Regions from separate parts of the Homo sapiens genome. Here region 2 is linked to region 1. Evidence: fine-mapped expression QTL. Tissue or cell type: whole blood. Region 1 holds a variant in brackets; the other region holds the start of a gene. All regions are shown on one strand. Distances are between the middles of the regions.

The links. PIP is the estimated chance that this variant, and not a neighbour inherited with it, causes the effect.
Region 2: RASSF4 starts here. The variant in region 1 is fine-mapped to the expression of RASSF4 in whole blood (INTERVAL, PIP 0.92).

Annotation. Positions count from the first base shown.
Region 1 is chr10:44,979,113-44,986,693 of GRCh38, reverse strand. It overlaps RASSF4 (Ras association domain family member 4), which reads right to left. Exons shown (of 11, transcript NM_032023.4): 4 at 4,031-4,173; 5 at 2,581-2,672; 6 at 1,724-1,881. Among named protein-coding and RNA genes, the nearest start is that of DEPP1, 4.1 kb to the right of the region's middle. RefSeq lists enhancers at 2,292-2,792, 6,066-6,135, 5,584-6,285, 6,286-6,989. The variant A/G (reference allele first, on the strand shown) is at 5,062.
Region 2 is chr10:44,956,352-44,963,265 of GRCh38, reverse strand. RASSF4 (Ras association domain family member 4) reads right to left here and starts at 3,464. Exons shown (of 11, transcript NM_032023.4): 1 at 3,400-3,464. It overlaps TMEM72-AS1 (TMEM72 antisense RNA 1), which reads left to right and starts at 3,577. Exons shown (of 8, transcript NR_033842.1): 1 at 3,577-3,674. RefSeq lists a silencer at 3,494-3,713 and an enhancer at 3,491-3,785.

The DNA of each region.
Region 1 (7,581 bases):
AGTTCTGTATGGATGTTGAGCGTGGTAAGAAAGGGCTTTTTGCATAGTGCTTTTCTTTGGGACTTCCCTTACCCAGGAGGTGGGGGAGCTACTGTCCCAAATGCTTAAGACACTATTCTGTGTCCTTGAAAGCAGTACTTTTTTCTGGAAGAATGGATTCACATTGCAAGGGCAAATCTGTCACTAGGAGGAAAAGCTGCCCTCACTGGGTGACAGGCTGAGACCCCATGTTGTCTGGCTGAGTAGCTCTTCTTGATAGTGTGGTTCAGTTGGAAATGAGAGGCTGCGATGAAAACCCTCACTGTTCATTTCAAAGGCTGCAGAGTGCTCAGGACATGCAGAGAGCTCAGTGTTCCTATGACACTGGCAATCACTACAATAAGGTTTAATGTACCAGACACACCTCTTAGTGATGAATGAGACCCTTCGAGGAGAAGCGAATGTACCAATGCTAAACTCCACCATTCAGTACTTTGAATCATGGAGCAAAACATCCCTGCCCCCACCCTTTTTTTGGTAAGGAACATAGAACTGGAAAATACCTAAACCCACGCACATATTTTGGAAAATTTTTGAATAATTCCTTACACTAGCATATCAACATTTATTTGAATGCTAACAATGGGTACCCAACACATTACACACTAAACCCCTTTTGGAACAAGATTTAAAGAATACTCAAGTCATGTCATGTGTCCTTGGGCTAATCTACACCTTTGTTAATCTCTGCCTAACTTCAATCCTGGGTCCCCTTTACTCTCTCAGGAGACTCTACTTTGGAATAGTCCTGGATTTTTCCAGATTTAGCAAAGGCAACCCTATTGTCATTCATTCACTCACCACAAGCCTAGCAGGGGGTGGAAGGGAGATCCTGAGATTAAAGCAGGGTCCCTTCAGCTTGCCCAGCAGAATTCCAAAGTAGACATTCCAAAGTCCAGGGCACCCTAAGTGTGGCTTGAATGGCCCCTGGATAGCCTAACCTGGGACACCTGCTCCTTCAGATCGGACCCTGAGACCCTCCTCCTGAGCCCCCTCCCTGCCATAAGTCATCCTCTATCAAGAAGGGCAGCTGCTTCAACTGGAAATCTCGGCTTGCATTTCCCAGTGCTGAGGGAAAGATATGGCCTGTCACAAGACGCTCCATCCAGGGCCTTGCCCAGACAGCCAATCATTCTATTTACAGTAACAATCAACTTCTCCTGCTACAGTTCAGTTTGTTTATAGAATGATGTAATTTGGGGAAAGAAAGCTTTTCCTGAGGTCAGTACAATGCATCCTTGGACAAAAGGCTGTGTGCTGGGAATCTGGGGTCGTCCAGGTTCTCTGGGGCACAGACACATGTGCCCTGGGCACACCCCTGCTTAATTATTCGGTGAGAGTGATGGCTGGATACACAGTGTTCCCAGGGATCAACCAATCGAGTTCGGGGGGAAGCCTCCTAGAAAGCGCCCTCATTGAAGACACGGTCAGCGTTACTGTCTGCCCAGGGCATCCCCAGCTTACTTGCCAGAATTCTGTGTGACTTGTGAGGATGCACTGACAGTGAGCATGTGCTGGAAAATGCTTAGGTCATAAACGGGGCTGTTATGTGGATGCAACCTGGTTTTTCCTCCTGAGGGCACAGGAATGCCAGCAGCCCCCACACAGGTCATGGTGCTTGCTGTGCCTGTGCTCAGGCCTGGCTCCCCATGCGCCCAGGGGAGAGGCCAGGCTGGGGCATCACCTTATGATTGTAGAAGTGGCCGTTGATAGAGAACCGGTGTCGCCGGATGCGCTGGGCCTCACCGGGGGCGCGGCACTTGGGCCTCCTCTGGCTCATGCAACTGGCGTCGCTCTTGGTCCGCATCAGCTGGGGGGCCTCCTCTGCCTCCTCCAGGGGCCCTGCATGAGAAATGGGTGAGAGAATGGCAGGGTGGGTGATGCTGACAGAGCAACTGCCTGCTGTCGGGAGATCTGGCACCCTAGAGCCCTGTGGTCACGTGCACTGGGGCAGATGGGGACGTGAGGGCCATTCCTGGACTGGAGGCTGGATATTCCCAGCTTGCAGATAGGAAGGTGAGACCCAGACAGGGTAACCTGGGTCACAATGTCACATGGCCATACCCCTCTTGGTCTCTGTCTTAGGGTGCCCATGGAGGTCTTTGGTGGCCCCAGCCCTGTCTTCTGAGCCCCTGCTCTGAAACAGGCCCTTCACTGAGGGCTAAAGGAAGGGGAATAAAAAGGATGAGTGAGCAGGTACAGAGGGTGAGGACGAGGTCGCAGAGGGAGGTGAGGGGCCAGGAGAGCGCAGTGCCTTCTGTGGATGCTCCTGTTTCCCATAGCACACACAGGGCGGGGGACTCAGGCCACCCCCACACTGTCACTGTCACCTCCCAAGCCTCTGCTCACTTTTCCATAAAAAGGAGCGAGAATGAGGGCAGAGCACCTCACAGGCAGGCACCTGGGTAGGGGTCCAGCAGGTGAAGCCCCTCGTTGGCTGGGGCACAAAGCTGTCCTTCGGAGATTGTGGTTGTGAGCCAAGCCCCTCTGCTCCTACCCCGGATGAGGCAGGGGTCTGGGCAGCTTGCGGGCTCCGCTTACCCGAGCTGTCTGTGGAACTCTCAGCCTTGTGCACTGGCTGAATGCTTGGCCCCTGGGCTGTGATGTTCCCGTTCTGGGGCGATGGCTCCTTTCTGAAAACAGACAACTGCAGGGCTGAGATGGCTGCCGGCAGAGAAAGGGAGCTCAGGCCAAGGAGAAGAGACCAGCAGCCCCTGGGGTAGGACACAGGCGGGAAGCAAGGCAGGCTGAGGTGAGGCCTGGATTTCAAACCAAGAGAGTCAGTCTGAAACAATAAAAGAAAAGTAGAGGCCTCCCCCCAGCATCTGCTGGACGGAGAGTGAGCCTGGCCCTGCAGACCTGAGGGCTTGTGCTGGGCTGCATCGCACAGACACACGGACACATGAACATAGTCAGGGCCTGCGCATTCCTAGACACCAGGCTTAGCCAGGCCAGCAGCTGTGTGCCAAACAGGCTCGCTGGGCTTCCCGAAGGCCTAGTGGGGTGTCAGGCAGGGGCCACCTAGAAGGGCCCAACCTCCAGGCCTCTTGGCAGGATGAGCCCCAGGCCAGGGTAGCTAGTGCTGGGCTGGAGAAGGAGTGGGTATGATGGGGCACAGCCCTGTAGCCCAGGGGACCTGGGGAAGAGAAGACAGATGGGATCCTGGAGAATACACGGGCACAGCCGCGACTGCTGTCTGTGAGTGCTTTACCTCGAAGAGGGGCACATGTGAGTCACACTTGCAGCCTTCCTAAGGAGTCTGACTTTATGCTCTAATTCTGTGTGCCTCAGAATTCGCTGAGTGACTGGGGACACCTAGGTATGTGCTGGGGCTGTCAGGGTGGTGGGTGCTGTCACAGCATGGGTTTCATATGAAATCTGAAGGGGGCAAAGCTCTGAATGTGTGCCCTCTACAGGAGTTACTACTGCAGAAGCAGGCAAGGCCCAGCTACTAACTGCGTCTTTTGGGAGTGGGCCGAGGAGGAGATAAATGTGCATTGAATGGTAAGGCAGGCAGGAGACCATTTCCTCCTGACAGAAACATTATTCTGATATTAAACAAATGTAATGTGAAATTCTGATAAATTTATTTTTAAAATTTTGACATTAAAATGAAAACAGAGTAGTAAGAGGCTAAATTCGTGTGAATTTTAAAGATAGAACAAGAGATGGCGAGACATGTTCGGCTTGCATAGGTGTTGGGAGCCCCCCTGGCTGTAGTCGTCCCTTCTTGCCAGCAAGGTGGCTTGCAGGAAGGTTTGAGAAACAGAAATAGAGGTCATGGGAGCCTGGAATGTTCTCCAGGAAGGAGGGAGAGGCCACCCTGGGCGAGGCTGTGGACTGAGGCAGTCACAGGGCATGGGGATGAGGCTGGGTCACCCTCCTGTGCCAGTGTCCCATAAGGGAACAGGGCTCCCACCCTGAGGCTCGGGATATCCCCAACCCGGGAGCTCAGGCTGAGCAGGTGTCACAGAAGCCACCGGGTACTCACAGAGGGCAGCTAGGCCGTCTGGGCATCCATGAGGTGGAGGGGAGGTGCACCTGCTCCCGGTCATCCTGCATCTGCAGCCGGATGGGCCGCCTCAGCCCCCAGGCAATGTTGAGGAGCCCCTCGATGATCAGAGTCCCTTCTTCCTGTGGGGGTCCACACATCAGCCCTTCCCCCAGAGCAGCTGCCTACCTTCCCTGTGCCCCCTAGGGATGGGATGCTCTGAACACTCAGGCCTTGCACATCCCTCCTCCTGAGTGGCCCCATCCCCTCAGGAAGGACCATCAGCCACTACGTGCCCTGGGGCGTGTGACCAGGCCCTGTGGGAGGGAGCCTGAGATGTGCTCAGCTCATGCCTGGCCAGGGGCACAGCGCAGAACACAGTGGCTGAGTCAGGTGTCCCACAGGAAGCCAGCTGCTGGCCGGCAGGCACGTCCACACCGCGGTGAAGAAGTGGTTCCAGGGACGCACAGCCTGTCTGCTCATGCCAAGCAGGGGACCTCTCTGCCCACACTGCACCTGGGAGGGGGTCCTGCGCCACCAGGTCCTATGGCCACCAGGCCCGGCAGGGTCCCACACCCACCAGAGGAGAAGTGGGCACTCTCTGTCCTAGCTGTGTCTCAGCCTCACCCTTCTCCCGGTGCCTTCCAACAGCAGCAGCGTCCACTTGCCAGGGCTGACAAAGGGTCTTGCTTTTCTCACCACTGCTTAGACATCACTAGCCCTATATCCCATACCAGAATTTCTACAACAGCCTTCATCCCATGTCCCCAACCTCCCTCGGTTTCCCTAGGTCTGCAGGTGACATGGCTTCTCTCCTGCTGCCAACCTGGGGCCCTAATCAACAGAGTCCTCTGCACGCACCTTGCTAGTAGTGCTGGTTGGCACCCCTTGGGCCCTTGATTCAGTGCCTCTGACCTATTCCAGGCCTCTGTCTCTGCGAGACCACCCCAGGCCTCTGTGCCAATCCCGGTCACTCTGTGTGTAAGCCTGGCCAAGCTGAGTCATTTGCCAGAATACTTGCCAGCAACCTC[A/G]GCTGCCCTCTACCCAGAGCCGCAGTCTCGAAACTACACACTCCTAATGTGCTCTGACACTAGTCTTCCCACAATTAACTTTGAATATCATTCTCTCATTGCCATCTCAACCAACATTTAATTTTATTATTTATGTTTTATTGTGATAAGGACATTTAACATAAGAACTACCCTCTAAACAAACTGTTCAGTGCACAATACTGTATTGTTCACTGTAGGCACAACGTTGTCCAGCCCATATCCAGGACTTACTCATCTTGCATAGCTGAAACATTATATCAGCTGCACAGCAACTCTCCACTTCCTCCTCCCCTGCCCCAGTCCCTGCAACCACCATTTTCACTCTCTGCCTCTATGAGCCTATTTTAGATTCCTTATATAAGGGAATCATGCAGTATTTCTGACCCATATTTTAGATTCACAAATCCCATTTCTCTCTCCTCGTTGGCACTAAAAGCCCTGTGAGAACAGGGACGCCATGGAAACTTCTTTGTATCCCTGGCAGCACTCAGGAAGACCCTGCACAATGTGGATTTCATGGTAACTTAGAAATGGGGTTTCTAGGTTCAAACATCCTGCCATCCACAGAGAAAATAGTGTATCCAAAGGTTATCAAATATACACACAGCTTCCAGATATGACCTTGCACTATCTGCTAAAAAGGAAAACAAACAAGCAGAAACCAGAGCTGTTTTTGATACTCACTGGTGCTCTACAAGCACAGATGTGTCACTGAGCTTCCTATGAAGGAGAGGCCAGCATGGATCTATGGAGTTCAAAGGTCTATGGGGGGTTCTGTTCTTGCCTCTTGGTCTCGGGTGCCTCTCAGTGGAGAGAGCTTGTGGGGATGGCTCACTCATGGAGACCCACTGCCCTCCAGCCCCACCCTGGACGCCAGGCAGAGGAAGATGGAGCAGACACAGCCCTGGCCACGAGGGGCTCGGGCTTGGACGCAGAAGGAGATGCAATGGAGCTTCTTGGAGGAGGTGCTTGTGCACTGCACCCTGGAAGACGAGTGAAGGGGGACAGGGAGGAAAGCTGAGCAGGTGGCCCTGACCTCAGGACCTGCCTGGACAAGGTCGGGGGCTTGGCTGTACTGGGGACAGGCTGGCTCTCCATGACTCAGGCCAGACATGCCTACACAGGTGATGTGTGTGCCCCCAGCATAGCCGCCCACTGTTCACCCTCCCCCAGCTTGGCCGCATCTGAATGGAGGGAAAGCCCCGTCAGCCAGCAGCGAATTCTCCGCCTCCCTCCCTCTTTTGGTCTCTTGACTAATCTGCTCATTGCTAATAAATTCAAAGAAGAGCCAGCGAACTAGACAAAGGGTCTACAAAAGATATAAGAGCTTGGGCAAGGTGAGAAGTGCCATGTGCCACTGAAATCCTGGTCACTGTCTCAGGCACTCCCTGCCCCGATGCCTTTGTGCACATGGAGTTCCCACCTAGAATTCAAGAACTTGGGACTGCCGGTCCCTCTTGCTTGCCTAGGGAGTCTGGGGTCTGCCCAGTACTCAGAGCTCAGGCTTGGGCTAACTCTCAAGACTCCTCTTTCTCCCCCACCTGCAGCACAGGCAGGCGTGTTCCAGGTGGGGCTGTGGCTGGGGCAGAGGATCTGTGGCCTGTCTGGGGAGTGCAGGAGCTTCCCAGGGGCTGCCTCTCTCATCCTTGGCAGCCTCCTTTGCTGGCATGGTCACTCCTGGACAGATGCAGTGGCTTTCTAATGTTGCCCAGGTGCTCCTTGGCAGCCCCCCAGCCCCAGCCCCAGCCCAGTCCCAGCAGCTGCAGCGATCCTTTGAAGCAGAAGCCAGACTGCAGTGCCCTTGTTCAAACCCTGCAGTCTTTCCCTCCCTCCTAGAGGGAAACACAGCATCCACCCCAAGGTCCACTGACCCCCTCCTACATGGGCCAGTCTGCAGGCCCCTTGCTGTGCCCTGAGCATGTCTGTCCGGCGCGCCCTCACCACAGGGGCTTTGCACGTGCTGCCCCTGCCACCTGGAATGTGCATTTTCCCATTTTTTTCAGGTTTCTGCTCCAATATCTGCTCTTAGGGAAGACACCCCTGACCACTGTACCTGTGGCGGCAGCCCACCACAGCATGCCACTGCGCTGCTTTCCTTCAGGCAGTTCTTGCTGTTGCCTGAATCACAGCACCCATTCATCTCTGGCTTGATCTCCTCCCTTACTAGAATATGAGCTCCAGGGGGCCACACCTTTGTCCGCTGCTACGTTTGCTGTGCTTAGTGCATTCACAGCACACACTAGCACCTCATATCTGGTGAACAAGTAAACAAACAAATCCTCCGAAAGCACCCCATCTGGGGTGTAAGAAGACCAGGGTCAGACCCCGCAGACCGCCCTTGGTCCCTTGCGAGCAGGGTGTGTCTCTCCTAGGAGCAGGCCTAGGGACCCAGCCTCAGCTGCCTCCAGACTGGGGTCCTGTGCTGCTGATTTTTCATCAAAGTTGCCAAGGACCTGGCCCAACTTCACAGGAGTCATGATGGGGTGGTGTAACACAGAG
Region 2 (6,914 bases), 23 kb after region 1:
CTGTCCCCTCCTGCTGCCCAGTTCCAATCACCAGACCCCTCCTCTCCACTCCCGCCATCATCCCTCTGGCTCAACTCACTCCTCCCTGCCCCAGAAGACTCTGCACTGTCCAGGTGGAGGTGATGGAGACCAGGGGAGTCCAGGAGAGGCGGGCACAGAGCTCCCCTCCACCTCCACTCCCGCCTTGCCCTGGACTGACCACACAGGCCCAGCTCACCTTTACTCCCCGCTGCGGTTCTGGCCTCTCACTGACAGGTCTCTCTGAGTCCAGTCCAGCATCCAGGCCTCCCTGATACAGCTCCCCTTCCTCTGAGAGCCTGGCCCTGAGCAGCCATGTAGATCGCAGACCAGCCTTCCCAGTGGGCAAGACTTCTGGCTTCTGCCCTTGTTTCAAGGCAAAGCAATTTGGGACAAGAAAACCATTTCCAGTCCTCCTGCTCCCCCCTTACACCTTAAACATACATTCTCTGCTCCTGGAACCCCCTGAACCACTCCTCAACTTCCCCACCAACCAGGCTCACCTCTAGCCTATGGAAGAGAAGATCCACAGAAACAAAGATCTTCTTAGCTATGGTTTTCGGGCCAAACGTGCTCAAAATGGGCACTGTCCAATATCCCGATTGCCTGGGGCTGGGAGTGCAATGCAGAGGGGCAGACCCCTCTGGGTGCCTGCTGCTGCAGGGCTGCTCTGGAGGCTCTCTACGGCTGCCCTCACCTGTGCTGTCCACTGCCCCAGGCCTGTGTGCCACATGTCACTGCTGGGGACATAAGGGCCCTGTGAGACAAAAGGGTCCCAGAATCTTTTGGGTCATAGAGTCCTTTGGAGTCTCTTGAAAGCTTAGTGCACTCTCCCCAGAAAATGCATGTATGTGCATGTTGTTGCAATCTGCATCCACGTGCAAACACACACACAATTTGCATATCACTGCAGGGAGATGAGACAGCTCTTGTCCATGTACTCCCAGATCCCCAGATCTTAGGTTTAGAATCTCTGCTGAAACCTGTCACAGCAAGAAAGAGGAGGCAGAGGAACGTTGTAGAGCCTTGCATGTGAGTTTTGCTGTGGCATTAACTTGGCCTGTGATCCTAGCGTGTTGCGCCGTCTCTTGGGCATCAGTTTAGCCAGAGCTGTTGTGGCAGCTGATAGAGAGTCTTCAGGGCTCTTCCCAGCACTGCAGCTATGGGGCTCAATGACACCCCACCCCTGCTTCCCAAGGTCAGGCAGGGCAAAGGGAGGGGGTTCCGGGCCTCTTCCTCAACAGTATATCCTAGGGCAGAAGGTGGGACAGCCAGAAAAGGAGACCCCGGGAACTACAAGTTTCTCTTTTACAAAAATAAGAAAACTGTTGAAGCTTTAGGAAGTGCAGCCACTTCTTATTTGATTTTCTTTATTTTAAAACAATTTCCCCAAACATACTCTGTGAGAGAATAACCACCTAGCCTTTGCAAGGCTCTGGGTTTAAAGCTCTGCTCTGTGACTGCCTGGCTCTGTTACCTTAAGCAAGTCCAGTTCCCTCTCTGAACCTTGGGCTCCTCATCAATTAAATAACTATAATCCTCGATGACTTCTGTGAAGACGAATGAGGAGACCTGTAAGATGGGCCTTGTGTTGGGCTCACCCATAATGAAAAGAGGCTCCCATTACTATTCTTATTGACACTGGGAGTTGGGGGCTCTGGAGAGACTGTGGAGCCCCAGAGATGGGAATGTGAGGCCTGCCTGCAGGAGTGGCCATGAATGAGGAGAGAGTCTGAGCTGACACCTGAAACCAGGCCCCAGACCCCAGGGGCCCAGGGCAGAGGGCTTTCTGGCAGATCCCCTAGTTAGGTCTCCCCTTTGAGGCTTTGCACGTCCAGAATCTGAACTCTGACACACACCCAAGTTTCGTTCATGTTCTTTGTTATCTGTCATGGTCCACTTGGTCCTGACCCAGGGCGACCCTGGACCTTGATTCTGTTCTCGACCTCCAGGCTACCCACTGGAGCTTCATGGTGGAAATACAACCCAATCTCCTGAGTTTCAGACAGACACTTTAATCTGTAGCATCAACCTTTTTGTTGTCAAATCACCAGCACTACACACTGAGAGAATTATGGCTAGAACTAATGACAACAGCCTTCACATACACTGACAAAGTGCTGAAACAGCCCATGACAATTTCCGGCCAGCATTTTTTTAACCTAAGTTTAATGAGTTTCATCTCTCCTCTTCCCTCCCTTCCTCTTTCTCCTCTGACCCTCTCCCTTCCTGTCTTCTCCCCTAACCTGCTGTCCTGGCAGAAGTAGCTAAGGAACCACACAGAGGAACAGAAGGCAGGATGGTCTACATTTACCTGTTACTTCACCAATTCACTTCTAACTTAAAAAAAAATGGTTTCTGGCAACAAATCCTGATTGACACCTTAGTACTGTGGGCAGTTAAACTACAGCAAAGCCAGCGAGGGGCTCCTCTGTGAGTGCAAAGCATAGCTTTGGAGTCTAACCTGCTTGGGTTCAAATTCCAGAAGCCCAGCCCTTATTTGCTGTGCGACCTTATTTAATTCCTATGTGAAATGGGGCTCCTGAAGCTGTCCTTACTGTGTTTTAAGAAAGTGCTGGCCCTGGCCTGGGCACTGATTCTGGTGTGAGAGGAGGCCTCCCTCCCTCCGCCGTGCCAGGTTAATGAAAACACTGAGGCATGTTTTGGAAGTGGGAAGTGCAGGATGGGACCGGAGTCAGGAGCCCAGAAGAGCAGGGCAGCAGGCAGGCTGACCTTCGGAGACTAAGGGTGAAGAGCAAGAGACTCAGGGGCACAACAAGCCCTGGGTTCAAATCCTGGCTCCATCACCAACTCATCCGGTAAAGGTGGACAATTTTATAACTCTTTAAGCCTCAGTTTTCACATCTGAAAAGGGGATAACGAAAGTAGGACTCTCACTTGCTGTGAGGAGTAAGAGGCATATCGTGTTAAAGCACTTGGCCCAGAGCAAGGCGAGCCCTCTACAGACAGCGATTGTGAGACAGACCCCCCCTGCTGCTATTATCTTGGCGTTCGATTTCCATCAGTGAAATCAGAGTTGTGCCAGAGGCCTCTAGGCTCTCTCCCCAACTCTAGGATCAGTGCTTCTAGGAAACTGGTTAAGGACAAGGTGAACAAAAAAGGTGTAGCCAGTGGCCGGGCTCATCTGTCTTGCTCAGGTTGTAGCCCCTAAATTGCTTAACAGAGGTGCCAGGCGCAGTGCCCCCTCTCAGCAATGAGCCCGAGGCCCGCAATGCGCCAGGCTGGCGGGGGAGGGACCCTGCGCGCTGCGGCCGAAGGGCACAAGTGCCCAGGCTTCAGCGTCCCTGCCTGGTGGCAGTCCTGGGTCGGAGGGGATGCTCCATGGACGCCCAAGCACTCTCCTGCTCGTTCATCACTCACCGTCCAGTCATCGCGCAGTCCAGAAGCCACTGCATGTGTCGTGTCCTCGCTTGCACCGGAGCTGCGCCCGCAGCGCCTGCTGACCCCAGGCTTCAGCTGCTCGGGGCCAGGCCCGCCCCTCGCCCCGCCCCTCGCCCCTCGCCCCGCCCCGCTCCCCGCCTCTCGCCCGGCACGGCCAAAGGTGCCGCCCCGGTCTCTCCGTCCCGCCCCGAGCACGCCCCTCACTCCGCACCGGCCAATGGCACCGCCCCGTCCGCCCCGCTCTGGGAACGCCGGTAGGTTCCGGGTGCAGGGCGGTGGCCTAGGGGCGGCGGGGAAGATTTGGGGCCTGCGACCTGCCAGGTGTCCCCAGGCCATTGTTCAGCTCGCCGCGCGCTCCCGAGTTCCCGAGGGCGCCCCGGGACGCGAGGAGAAAGCAGCCCGACTCAGCCCCGAGAGGTTCGGTGTGCGGGCAGCGGCCAGGGACTTTGCGGGGTAGCGCGGACTCCTGGACTTCCAACAAGGGCCGCTGCGCAGGCGCTGCAATCACTGCAGGCACTTGTCTGCATGCCTGGTGGGGCTTGGAGTCTGGGGAGGCTTATCAGTAAAGCCCAGAGCATTTGCTATTTATTGCTCAAGGGGCACCTTTGTACAGTCTGGCCGTTTGCTTGGCATGGCCTCTTAGAACTCCTTATTGTTTAAGAAATCCGATCTGGTGAATAAGAAGTTAGTCTTTCTCTCCCAGTCACTGCCTCCTGGACGAATATTTGCCAGCACGGAGGCAGAGAGGACAGAAAACCACAAGCCATTTGGGGAACTGGGAACAGTTCAGTGTTTCTGGGGTGTGGGGGTGTCAAGGTGGGGGATGGGGTTGATGGAAAACATTTGCAATTTCTGCTTTACCTCACGATTCCCAGCTCTGACCTCTGGACCTGTTCTCTCCCACCCCTAACATAAATCATTTTAGTTTCATTCAGTGTGCGTTTCCTAATATTTTTAGGGTCTCATGGCCATTTTAGAATCTGATATGGATCTTCTAGAAAGTGCAGGTGGCCATATGCACCAAAATCAGCCTGGGATTTGAGTCTCATGGGTCCCTGAACTTCGACTTAGAGGGGCTGTGCTAATGCTTGTATGGCTGCTGTATGACTTATGTTGGAACCCCCACCTGCAAAAAGTGACAGGACTGAAGATACCCAGTCCAGGGGCCCTCCCGTTTCTGCGTTTGCTTGAATTTTTGGAGAATGGCCCATCCTTTGACAGCTCTGAGGCTCCCTGTGGTTGGTGACTTGTCATGACACATTTGCTCTTCCACAGCCCTCATCAAAGCTGAGACAAATAATCGGGTGCTTCCAAAGGTTTTTTAAAAGTGGGTAAAATTCAATATAACTGTCAACCTCTGAGCATGAGATCCTAAGAATTTAATCACTCCTGATAGGAGAAGTAAACATAGCACCAGGGTGACATAACAGTTTCCCTGGGCTCTCCAGAACTCGAGTGTGAATCATTCTCTCTGACCTAATTAATGCTGTTCACAGGGCCATGACTGGCTCTGAGTGAGGACTGGGTTTGGGACAGCAACCCCATGTGTCCTGTGCACCCATTGTGGGCTCAGACACTATGCTAGTGCTTTACATTGGGGATCCCATGCAATTCCCCCAGCACTCCTGGGCAGTTGGTGTTACTGCTTGCATTTTTTAAAATTTCCATTTTTATTTTAAATTTAGGGGATACACGTGCGGGTTTGTTACAATTGTACATTGTGTGGTACTGAGGTTTGGGATTGATCCTGTCACCCAGATGGTGAGCATAGTACCCAATAGGAAGTTTTTCACCCCTCGCCCCGCTGTCTCCCTCCCACTTTTGAAGTCCCCAGTGTCTATTGTTTTTATCTTTATGTCTAGGTGAACCCGATATTTAGCTCTTTTGCTTGTAAGCGAGAACATGTGGTGTTTGCTTTTCTATTTCTGCATTAGTTCGCTTAGGATAATGGCATCCAGCCACATCCATCCTGCTGCAAAGGACACGATTTTATTCTCTTTTATGGCTGTGAGTGCTTGCATTTTACATCAGACACAGGTGTCCATTGTCAGCGTCCTCCCCTCAGAAGGGGAGGGTCCATTGTCAGACCCCTCAGAAGGAGGGGTCACCTTTTCTTTCAGGGTTCAGTAGAACTGGGTGTGGTCTCCAGCTCACTTATGGTGGAGGCTACAGATACTGTTGGTTGCCAGCCAATGTCCATTTCCTTCTTTGGAAAAAAGAAAGATAGGAAAGAAGGAAAAGGACAAAAAGGAAGGAAGGAAGGAAGAAAGGGAAAGAGGGAGGGAGGAAGGAAGGAAGGACGGAAGGAAGGAAGGAAAGAAGGAAAGGAGGGAAGGAAGGAAGGAAAGGAGGGAAGGAAGGAGGGAGGGAGGAAAGAGGGAATGGGGAAGAGAGGAAAGAGAGAGGGAGGGAGGGAAGGAAAGGAGAGAGAAATACCCACTTGTCTGTAGCAGCAACATGCCAGCCCCTAGTTATGGCTCATGCCCACTTGTATTTTTCATACTCTACTTACAACCCAATAGTGGGTCATGAAATTAATTTAGTTGATGATGTGACTAGTACTTCAAAAATGCAAGGGAAAATACCAGTGTACAGCACAAATAGTAAATATAAGTTGTGTTTTGTGGAACTTTTTGTTTGCATTGTTTATGTTTCAGTTATGTGTGCTTCTTACTGTGGGTTACAGTTAAAAAAAACAAAACAGCTGTCTAAGTCTTGACAATCCTTTTCATAGCTTTTTTTCAGTGAAGCTAGAAGTGGCCATACGACCTACTTCTGGACGCAGAGATGGGGGAAGGTGTCCTGGGGGAGGAGAGATCTGAGGGATGGTGAAGATAACTTTTGCTTTTCTGGTAGAAAGAACAGATGTCTCTCCTGCCTGCCTGTCTCAAATGAGGACATGATGTGTAATGTCTGGAGCACTGGCAGCCATGTTGAGATCATAAAGCAACATGTCCGCATGCTGAGGCTGGCAGAGCATAAAGATCAAAGGTGTCTGGATCCTTCTTAACATCATGGAGCTTCTGCACCAACCCTGCACTGCCTACTCCAGACTCCCTACCATGGAGAAAAATTAGCCCCTATTTCTTCAAGGCAGAGGTTGGTAAACCTTTTCTGTACAGGGCTGGATAGTAAATATTTTAGGCTTTGTGGGCTAAATGGTCCGTGTCACAACTACTCACCACTACTGGGGTAGTTTGAAAGTAGCCATAGACAATATGTAAACCAAAGGACATGGTTGTGGTTCTCATAAAACTATTTTAAAAAATGGATGGCAGGGCTATAGTGTGCCAACCCCTTCCCTAGATGATCTTGTCCCCTAATTGTCTCTCTGACCTCATCTCCTCCTACTGCCTCTCCTTCTCCCTGCTCTGATCACACTGTTTCTCCCACACACCCAGCCTGTTCCTGTCAGGGTCATTCCTTCCCTTGGAGGGCTCTTTCCCCAGATGTCCACAGCGCTCCCTCCTTCCCCTGCTTCAGGTCTTTAATCA